Regions from separate parts of the Homo sapiens genome. Here regions 1, 3 and 4 are each linked to region 2. The links come from fine-mapping of genetic effects on gene expression. A gene starts in region 2. Each other region holds a variant in brackets. All regions are shown on one strand. Distances are from middle to middle. Region 1 overlaps STMN4 (stathmin 4). Region 2 holds the start of TRIM35 (tripartite motif containing 35). Region 3 has its middle 1.9 kb from the start of STMN4. Region 4 overlaps STMN4 (stathmin 4).

Region 1 (2,684 bases), 74 kb before region 2:
TGTTTGCAGGGGAAGGGAGGAGGAGAGCTTCTTTTCCAGCCATGGTTCAGTGTCCTGGAGACCAAGACTGCTGGGTCTGGATGCCTCCTTTGCCTTCTACTAGCAAACACTTTATTTCCTTGCTCGTATTTTCTAATCTACCTAGAATCTCAAACCCCCAAAGCATGGAGGACTTCTGCTATGGTGTGAATGTTGCTGTCTCCCCCAATATACAGGTTGAATCCTAATCCCGACACTACAGAATTAAGAGATAGGGCCTTAAGAGGTGAGATCATGAGGACTCCACCTTCATGAATGGGATTAGTGCCTTAAAGAAAAGGCTCAAGGAAGCCCTTTTGCCCTTCCCTTCTGCCATGTGAGGATGCAGCAAAAAGGCATCATCTTTGAAGCAGATGGCAAGCCCTCACCAGACACTGAATCTGCTGGCACCTTGATATTGGACTTCCCAGCCTCCAAAACTGTGAGCAATCAATTTCTGTTATCAATTACTTAGTCTAAGGTATTTTGTTACAGCAGTCTGAACGGTTGTGACTAAGACAAATTCCTTCTTACAGTGCATCTTGGGGACCATATTAGGATGTCAGTTCATTGAAAGGAAGATTGAGTTTCTTTTCTCATCAATTTAGTGCATGCTATCCAATAAAGATTAGCCCACAGAGGGGATTTTAAAAAACAGAAGAGAAAACCTTTCAATTATGCCAAAGGCTGGCCTGATTCAACCCACCTCACCCAGGCTCCAGATGCTTGAATGGCAGAATTAAGGAAGCAAAGGGGCATCTGCCATCAGATGGATGAAAGCCAGGTTTCGAGAACTTTTTAACAATTACCCAAAGGACACATTTGGGAAATAAAGAACTGGACACTTGGAGTCAATGTTTCATTGGTCATGATGATCAAAAAATGATGGTTCACACACACACACAGACCTCATCCCACCTGCTGCAGGGTGGAAGCAACACCACTGGTACTCACAACCCCTCTGGCTGGGTTCTCTGGTGCGCCCTGCAGCCGCTGCCCCACCCAGGACTCTGTCCTTCACCCTGAAGTTCTACCGCCCTGGTTTTCATCTCTCCTCAACATGGTGCCTGGAGGCTCAATGTCCAGGTAGAGATGTGAAAATCAGATCTGCGCCGGGCAGGGTTGCAATGTCCTTGAGTTCTTCTCCATCTCCCTTTCCCAAACTCTCTCCTCTCCCCTCTCCCACCCCGTCATTGTTCCCCGGAAACAAATAGGATGGCTTCACTGGTCAATTCTTAACATGTACAAACACCAAAAGCAGAGGAAACGCCCCTTGGCCACCCCCCTCCCCCCAAACCCCAGTGCTGGGAGCGCAGCCGGCGGGCGAGGCTGCCTGGAACGTGGAGCTGCTGGAGCTGTCCGGCTGACCTGGAAAGTTCTTTGGCCTCTAGGCTTTACCTGGAGGCCTCTTCCTTCAGCTCCTTGTTTTTCCGCACCTCCTCGGCGTGCTTGTCCTGGAAAGGAAGGGAGGGAAAAGGGCAGGTCACACAAGGCTGCCCGGGGACAAAAAGGGAGGCCAAGGGGCAAGAGAACCAAAAGCAAAGAGTGGCCACCACAGGCAGCGAAGAGCTCTGTCTGCAAAGGCATCCCGAGAGGGGCAGAAGGTGGCAGGTGAGGCTGGCAGGAGGCAGGGGGCAAGCCTACTG[G/T]TGCTGCCCCAGGGAGCTCAGGGTCCTGTGGGTGTCAAACTGCAGCAGGGGCCCACCTTACAGTGACCATGGGCCACGCAGCCTCCCCCTCCCTCACCTGGCCATTCTGTGGTTTGGATTAGATCATATGGCTTGACTTAATATAAGGAGCTGCTGGGGGTAATTTGTGCCAGAGGAGCAGGCAGAACAGACAGGCCTCACTACAAGCATCCCCTACAAATCACATGCACCTGCCTGCTGCTTCTAGTTCTCATCCATCTCCTTTGTGAGAATTGCCTTAACCCTCTTGGTGAAAGATGAGGATTCTTTGATTTTCCTTTGTTATTATTTAAACAAAAATAGAGATGGGATCTTGCTATGTTGCCCAGGCTGTCCTCTAACTCCTGGCCTCAAATGACCCTCCCACCTCTGTCTCCCAACGTGCTGGGATTACAGATGTGAGCCACCGTGCCCAGGTGTGGACTCTTAAAGTGCAAATCGACAGAAGAATTTTGAAAATGTTGCCCAACTCCAAAAAGTGGACTTTCTTACACCTATTATAAGAGAACCTTCTTTTATTTCACAGGGTAGTGCAGCCAAAAGATAGCATCTGCCTTCCAAGGCCCATCTGCAGGAGGATCTTGGCTGGCTCACTTCTCCAACCAGGCCTCAGTTCTCTGATCTTTAAAGAGAAGGGCATAGACAGGTGGTCTTTCACCCCTCAAGTTGTGATGTTTAGTGTTCACCTGCTCACTGTGCAGATTCTCTATTAGACAGTTCTCTATTAGACGGTGACTTTCCTGTGGGTAGGGACCACATTATCTTTTCTACTATGGTGCCTTACACATGGCAAGCACTCAACCAATGTTGTCCCTCCCAGAGCCTGGCACTGTCACATCCAGATGACAGAATCAGCCTGAAGTAGACCCACGGAGGCCCCCAGGTTTTCAGGATAAACTATAAACTACGAATCTGTCCCTGCAGACACCCTAGAACTTTCTGTGGCCTAGGAGTGAGGAGTGGTGTGCACAGGGCAGGGGT
Region 2 (2,684 bases):
GGTGATGAAATAAATTCAATGTTTCACATTCTGGGTAATTTTTAAAAGTAACAGAGGCCAGGCGGAGTGGCTCACGCCTGTAATCCCAGTAGTTTGGGAGGCAGAGGAGGGCAGATCACTTGAGGCCAGGAGTTCCAGACCAGCCTGGCCAACATGGTGAAACCCTGCCTCTACTAGAAATTAAAAAAAAAAAAAAATTAGCCAGGCGTGTTGGTACATGCCTGTAATCTCAGCTACTCGGGAGGCTGAGGCACCAGAATCGCTTGAACCCAGGAGGCGGAGGTTGCAGTGAGCTAAGAGCACGCCACTGCACTCTAACCTGGGCGATAGAGGTCTCAAAAAAAAAAAAAAACAAAGGGAAGTAACAGAAAATATCAGAGTGCCATGGACATGTTCAGAAAACTTTTGTTTCAACTGATACATATGTTCTGGGTCACAAGGGAAAATGCATTGCTTCCTATGGGCTAAGATTAAACGTTTTGGAAAATGCTGAGTTAGGCTAACCCTTATCTTCTATTCATTTTTCCTTCCTATATCAAAGAATTCTCCATGTTAGTTTTGCCCTGTAAGTTGCTCCTGGGTTTATGTATAGTCACTAGAACTCTAGATATGGAGATGCTGCTTTATAAACCAGAATAGGCCAGCCAGCCAGGGTCAGAGACCTCTCACTCAGATAATACAAACCGCGGGATCAGCTTGGCAAGTAGGTGACTGGTTTGGGGGAAATCTTAAGACTCCACACCCCTGGCCAGGTCTGTGGCTCCTCCTCCACTTCTAAATTGAGTGTGCCAAGCTACAGGGCTCGTGGGCTGCACCCACATCCGTGCCGCTTAAAGGGACCTGGGCCACACCCGGCTGGCACAAGGGGTGCATGGCCTGGGCCCTTCAGAAGCAAGTGTCGCTGTCTTGGGAACATCATGTAACCTCATCTGTCACTTTCCGTTCGCATTCTCTTCTCCCAGCACGGGCCCCTGGGCCGACCTTGAAGAAGCAGCCAGCCCTGAGAACCTGGGTCGGAGAGGTGGGGTCCTGCATGCTGGGAGCGAGACGCGGGCACACTGGGCTCTGGCAGGCAGGAGGGGCGGGAGCCGCAGAGCCAAGGGATTCCGGGTTCCAGACCCGGCTCGGCCGCCTCGTGCAAATCGCTGCTCTTACCCGAAAGTCGTGGGCAGTGTCCTTCACCGGCTGCACGCGGTGCCCCTGGTGTCGGGGGTCGGCCTGGCAGGAGCAGCACAGCAGCTCCTTGTCCTCGAGGCAGAAGAGGCTGAGCTGTCCGCGGTGCAGGCGGCAGACACGCGAGAAGCGGTAGCTGGTCCAGCGCGCGCCCTCGGCCTCCTCGCGCAGCAGCTTCTCCACCAGGTTGTTGAGGGTGTGGTTGGTGCGCAGGTCGGCGGGTGACGCGCGGTCTTTGCACACTGGGCAGGTGGGCGACACCTGCACCTCCCAGCAGCGGCTCACGCACCCGCGGCAGAAGTTGTGGCCGCAGCGCAGAGTGACTGCGTCGCGGAAGGGGTCGTAGCAGACGGCGCAGAGCAACTCCTCCTTGAAGGAGCGGGAAGGCCCGGGGGACACGTCGGGACTCCGCTCCATGGCACGAGCAGCCGGCTCGGGCGCCCGGAACTTTTGCTCCGGCCCCTCCCACCCGCCCGGCTGCCAACGCCCGCGACCCGAGTGCTGGGAATCGCCCAGTCCCTTCCCCTGGAACGCTGAGAGACAGCGGCGCTGGCCAATCGTGCGGGGGGGATGGCGAGGGGGAGGGAGGGGGCGCTCGGAGGAGCCCCACCCACTTCCGGTGTGCGCGGGAAATCTTGGGAGAGCGGGGTGGGCCTTCTGCCCGCAGTTCCCGCCTCCTCAGGTCCGGGCGGGTCCCTGGCCGGGGTAGCACGGAAGGGTCTCCCAGGCGGCGTAGTAGGGCTTCCGTGTTACTGGAAACCTACTTCCGGCTGCAAATGGGAAAAGGAGCCTCTACCTTAACCAATCCCCGGGAACCTCAGGCCCGCGGATGGGAGAAACCAGAGATGCCAACTTCCTGCTTCCGAAGTAGTGGCTGGGTCTTAAAGCACCGTGAGTGCAATCACCACTTAAGTTTGCAGCGCCTTTTTGAGGACCTATGCCACTCTTGCATTAGTCGTTTACTTATTTTGGCCAGTCTTCTTCTGGCCCGCCGCGGTAAGGAGAAACAAGAGAGGGGTGGCGGCAGAAGAGCTCCGAGAAAACCTGATTCTTGTCCTGTGGTTGAAAAAGTGAACAGGTCATCATGTTTCAAAGTCCATTTACTCATGAGTACAATGGCTGTAATAGCTCTGTTTCCATGAAGTGTGAGGATAAAGTGAAATAAATGTGGAAAGTGCTCATGACAACCACTGTTTTAATGGGCAAGTGCCCATTAAAACAGTGAAATTGAGGACTTCTGCAAAGTTTAGCTGAGATAACTAGAGTTCATGCTCAATTCTTGCCAGGTACAGTAGGCCTGGATGGTTCCTTCAGATCTTCATTCCTGCTTCAGTTTGATCACTTTACAGCCTCCAGATGCAGAATACTTTTCACACGATGCACTTTCATTCCTTTTCTATTGGGAGACAATTCACATGTGTCATGTTCCTGCATGTCTTGAGAGAGCAGAGGCACTGACTGCCTTTTTCCAACTATCTTTTCAAGGATGTTTCTGCATTGAATAGCCCTGG
Region 3 (2,684 bases), 51 kb before region 2:
ATCAGCCACATCTCTGCTGACACTAGTGGGTCCTCACTGCCCCTCCCATCCAGCCCTCCTGGGCCTTCCAGAGGGAGCCACAGGTAGGAAGATGGACTGGTCATTACACTGGTGATTCCCAAATATGGTGGATTTTTTAAAATTTTCAGTAAGTTTTTGGGAAACAGGTGGTGTTTGGTTACATGAATAAGTTCTTTAGTGGTGATTTCTGAGATTTTGGTGCACCATCACCCGAGCAGTGTACGCTGTCCCCAGTGAGTAGTCTTTTATCCCTCACTCTCCTCCCACTCTTTCCCCCAAGTCTCCTAAGTCCCTTGTATCATTCTTATGCCTTCGCGCCCTCCTAGCTTAGCTCCCACTTATGAGTGAGAACATATGATGTTTGGTTTTCCATTCCTGAGTTACTTCACTTAGAATAATGGTCTCCAATTCCACCCAGGTTGCTGCAAATGCCATTATTTCATTGCTTTTTATGGCTGAGTAGTATTCCACGGTGTGTGTGTGTGTGTGTGTGTGTGTGTGTGTGTGTGTGTGTATTACATTTTCTTTATCCACTTGTTAATTGGTGGGCATTTGGGCTGGTTCTATATTTTTGCAATTGCGAATCATGCTGCTATAAGCATGCATGTGCAAGTATCTTTTTTGTACAATAACTTCTTTTTCTCTGGGTAGATACCCAGGAGTAGGATTGGTGGATCAAATGGTAGATTTACTTTTAGTTCTTTAAAAATTTTTCACACTGTTTTCCATAGTGACTGTACTAGTTTACATTTCCATATGGTGGAATCTTGAGGGGGGGTGACGGGTCAGCGATGGTGGCTTCTGTAGTTCCCTCAGGGAATGAGGGAGCCACTAACATAACCTTCACAGGCTGCTGCCCTCAGCCAGTGAGCTGGAGAGGGCAGGGTGAGGCAGGAGAGGAGCCAGGCAGCTGTGGAGCGAGACCCCCTCCTCCAGAACACCTCTCCAGATTAAATCCCCCCAAGATGTGTCCATCATCCCCACATTCCACCGTCCAGCCTTGCCTCATGTGTTCTTCTTGGTGGGGAGGGGTAATTTTTTTTCTTTTTTTTTTGAGACAGAGTCTCGCTCTGTCACCCAGGGTGGAGTGCAATGGCGTGATCTCGGCTCACTGCAACCTCCACCTCCCGAATTCAAGAGATTCTCCCGCCTCAGCCTCCTGAGTCACTGGAACTACAGGCACGCACCACCACACCTGG[C/A]TAATTTTTGTATTTTTAGTAGAGATGGGGTTTCACCATATTGGTCAGTCTGGACTTGAACTCCTGACCTCGTGATCTGCCTGCCTCAGCCTCCCAAAGTGCTGGGATTATAGGCATGAGCCACCACGCCCAGCCGGGGAGGGGTAATTTTATTGAGGCTGAACATGTCCAACATAACGCTCACCATTTTCACTATTTTGAAGTGTATAGCTCACTGGCCTCAAGTGCACACGCATTGCTGTGTAGCCATCACAGCTTTCCATCTCCAGAACTTTGGCATGTTCCCCAATATTCATATGTAACCAGTAAGCAATAACACTCCTTTCCAGCTAACCCCAAACTACTTTCTGTCTCTATGAATTTGCCTATTCTAGGCACCTCGTATCAGTGAAATCAAATAGTATTGTCCTTTTGTATCTGGCTTCATTCTCTTGGCATGTCTTCAAGGAGCATCCATGTTGTAGCATGTGTGATAATTCCATCACCTTGCTCCTCCCTCCTTTTTTTTTTTTTTTTTTTTTTACAAAGTCTTGCTTTGTCATTGAGGCTGGAGTGCAGTGATGTGATCATGGCTTACTGCAACCTCTGCCTCCCAGACTCAAGTGATACTCCCACCTCAGCCTCCCCAGTAGCTGGGACTACAGGCATGTGCCACCACACCCAGCTAATTTTTTATAGAATCAGGTTTTCACCATGTTGCCCAGGCTGGTCTCAAACTCCTGGGCTCCCACCTGCCTTGGCCTCCCAAAGTGCTGGGATTATAGGCATGAACCACCACGCCTGGCACCTCACCCTATTTTAGGAGGGTTTGTTCACCCTCTACCACCAAACCCCTATTGACTGAGAACACGAATAATGACAAAAGTTGCCTTGAATTCAGCCCATGCTTTGAAGTTATTATTTTTAAACTACAGTAGCATCAATGAGCATTTGAAAATCATAGTTAATGCATGGATGTCACATGTTCACCCTGCAGACTGTGCTGGGGATTAAGTAGATTCTCAAGCCCTGGCATGAACCCCTGACCTGCACCCCACTGCCAGGACCTGCAAGCTGGCATCTCACCACAGCACCCCGTGTGGTTCTCCAGGAGGCCCCATGTAGACACACATCTCCAAGCCCCCACTTCACATCCAGAGGGGAGGGCTCCAGTTAGGCTGCCAGCCCCTGGCCAAGCGGTGGCCAGGATGAGGAATGAGCCCTGACAGCCTTTGGGGTTTTCAAAGCACACCAGAGCTGAATCTATGGTGTAATCCTTTCAGCAGGGCTGCAAGGACGGCAGGACGAACACTGTGCTGTTTGACATTCAGTGAGTATCACTGAACAACACACTTATCATTCATGCCACATGCCACCAACCCAGGACCCTCAGCCATCAAGCTGAGCCTTTTCAGTGGGAATCAGGACAACTAAGGATATCAGAAAGTCATTCCCTCAACATGTGGAGACAGGAGAGGCCACACT
Region 4 (2,684 bases), 66 kb before region 2:
GATTTTACCATCGATGGATTAGACAGGTTATTCTCATAAGAAAGGTCTTTATACACTGGGGAGGGAATCTCAGGGGTACCTCATTTGCTCTTCCTCCAGGCCCTCTCCCCACCAACTCTCCCTGGGGGTCCCCTACCCCGACCTCCCTCCCACAATGATGCTAAACAAGCTCAGATTCCATGAACTAATGATACTTCATAATTGGCTTTCCAGTCTCAAGCCCCCTAGCACATGCAAGCGTGGGTTTCCCAAAAACGTATGGATCAAGGGGTGCTCATCTGTCTCCCTCCATAGCTCAAGAACCTGGCCCAATTCAAGGGTTAGGGTGAGAAGCAAATCCTCCTGCAGAATCAGCTGGGAGGCATTCATAAAATAACTGTGTGTCCTGGACTTCTCCCCGCACATGCCCCAGAAGTCTTTGGGCCAATTCTGATATGGGAAGAGAGGGAATTGGACATAGGATGTTAACAGGCCTCTTCAGATGCCTCTCACCTTCCCTTTCCCAAGACGACTGACCTAAGCTGTGTTTGACCCTATTTAAGACAATCCGGGACACAGGAAAGAAAAACATTAAGGAATCATGTCGTCATCACAGGGCCAGCCAGCACACCACCAGAAATCAGCGTGAGGAATTGCTGTGGGACACAGAGATAGGGCTCCACACCACCAGAAATCAGCATGAGGAATTGCTGTGGGACACAGAAATAGGGCTCCACACCCCCAGCATTTGCCAGGGAGCCTGGGAGGTGTCCCTGGTGTCGGTAGCACCTGAGCAGTGCCTTGAAGGATGAGTTAGAATCAGACAGGAGCTGGCAGGAGGGCATTGTGCAAGGGAACATCACGGCCAAGGGTCGGGGTGAGAACGCCACTCAGTGTCCGTGGGATCAGGTCAAGCTAGTTGACGCTAGATCAGAAAGTGGAAAGAGGAGGGGGCGGGGCAGGAGACAAAACAGGAGAGTCAGGGAAGGAGCAGATCTGGGAGGATCAGAGGGGTGGAGGTGATGGGAGCCCATGAAGGCTACTACAAAGAGAGTGAGGAGCAGCCAGCAGTGAGTGGCCATCCTCAGGACCATTTGATCCTCGGTCACCCTCTGTGGTCACTGTGCCAGGGGAGGGTGGCGAGAGCCAGCAGGCTCACTGCCTACATCCTTGCCAGCCAAAGAGACTCTGAGACCCACTTCAAACCCCTTGCCTTTCTGTGCTGGCTGGAGACTGGCAGGAGGAGGTAATGGGGCAGTGAACTCAGCTCTGGCTTTAGGGCTAGACCAGTGTGGGGTCAAATACAAGTATCACCTCTCTTACCAGCTCTCGCTAGTCTCTTTCTCCATCTTAATCCTGCACAGAGCTGTACAAATTAAATGAGAAAAACCCATGCATAGCATCCAGCAGACAGGAAGCACTGAATAAATGTTAGTCTCTTTGCCCTGTCTTTTGCATCAGGACAGCTATCAGGTGCCACATGCCTGCTTCAGAGCCATTACCTCTGGACCCACAAGTAAGGACTGTTGTTGCCATGTGCGGATGGGGAAACTGAGGCTCAGAGGGTTTATGTGCCTGCTCAGGGCAATGCAGCTAGCAAGTTAGAGTGCCCATTTGAACCGAGGTCCAGCTGGACTTAAACTGCTTTGTTCTCCTTGTTCTTGTTGTTGTGCTTTGGAGCCAGAGGCCCCTGTCATTGCAGCACA[A/G]TGGGTCTTCTCTCTGCAGAACTAAGCTGGTCCTGACGGCACCAGTGAGTCCCTGAACAGAGAGGCAGGCCTGGTGCCTGCATGCGACTTCCCTGGTCATGACACCCCATCCCGCAGTCTCTGCTCATGGCCAGGCTGACTGACAAGTCACTGGCAGAGTTAGTAAGCCCTTGCCAGAGTGGCAGTGGCCTTGGACTTCTACCTGGGGAAAGGATCAGAAGTGGAAGCCTGAATAGGTGGAGGGGAGGCAGAGAGGGATGCCTGAGAAAGAAGGCAGATGGAGTAGGAGCAGGCAGTTGGAGTTATGGAATGTGCCTCCAGCCCGAGCTAGAAATGATGATAGGACCCTGTGCTCAGGGGGCACTCGACACCCACCACATTATCCTAGTCTAACTTTGCATGAAGCTGGCTTAGGCTGACAAGACAGGCATCATCAGCTTTGCTTTCAGATGAAGAACCTGGGGTTTGGAGAAGTTCAGACGCTTGCTTAAGGTCACACAGCTCTAAGGGTGCAGAGCTGGGTCTAGTCTCCAGGTCTCTCGACTTGTAAGCTCTTCCATTGTAACCAGTGGAAGAACTAGATACTCACTAATGCTTTCTCTATGGTCCTGAGGACTCACAGAAAGCCAGCCTGGCCTGGGGATATGAGTTAACTTTAAAATATGTGGTAAGTGCTTTCTACATGGAAGGAAATGGGCTAGGAGTTTTAGGAACACAGAGAAGGTCAGAAAGCCAGAAAAGGAAAACCAGGGCAAGAAACGAGATGTTGTAGAGGTGGGCAGAGGTATGCATGGTCATGATCAAGGGATTTGCAATGGAGACCTCTCAGTGTTAAAAATGTGTGCTTACTGAGCAGCTGCTATGTGACAAACTCACTTTAATTTTCGTAATAGCCTCGTAAGGCAGGAATTACTATCCCCATTTTATAGAGAATGAAATCGAGGCTCAGGGAAGCTAAGTGCCTTTTCAAGGCCATTCAGTACAGTAGGTTAAATAATG

The links.
Region 1: its variant is fine-mapped to the expression of TRIM35 in whole blood (INTERVAL, PIP 0.99).
Region 3: its variant is fine-mapped to the expression of TRIM35 in hypothalamus (GTEx, PIP above 0.99).
Region 4: its variant is fine-mapped to the expression of TRIM35 in spinal cord (GTEx, PIP above 0.99).

Annotation. Positions count from the first base shown.
Region 1 is chr8:27,235,434-27,238,117 of GRCh38, forward strand. It overlaps STMN4 (stathmin 4), which reads right to left. Exons shown (of 7, transcript NM_030795.4): 7 at 1-1,472. The coding sequence ends at 1,413. Among named protein-coding and RNA genes, the nearest start is that of STMN4, 22 kb to the right of the region's middle. RefSeq lists enhancers at 1,028-1,528, 1,529-2,029. The variant G/T (reference allele first, on the strand shown) is at 1,665.
Region 2 is chr8:27,309,646-27,312,329 of GRCh38, forward strand. TRIM35 (tripartite motif containing 35) reads right to left here and starts at 1,627. Exons shown (of 6, transcript NM_171982.5): 1 at 1,156-1,627. The coding sequence starts at 1,590. It also overlaps a transcript of PTK2B not described here. RefSeq lists enhancers at 596-705, 1,106-1,325, 1,336-1,485 and a silencer at 1,636-1,845.
Region 3 is chr8:27,258,990-27,261,673 of GRCh38, forward strand. No RefSeq gene overlaps it. Among named protein-coding and RNA genes, the nearest start is that of STMN4, 1.9 kb to the left of the region's middle. The variant C/A (reference allele first, on the strand shown) is at 1,221.
Region 4 is chr8:27,243,822-27,246,505 of GRCh38, forward strand. The region is part of intron 1 of STMN4 (stathmin 4); the gene reads right to left. Among named protein-coding and RNA genes, the nearest start is that of STMN4, 13 kb to the right of the region's middle. The variant A/G (reference allele first, on the strand shown) is at 1,686.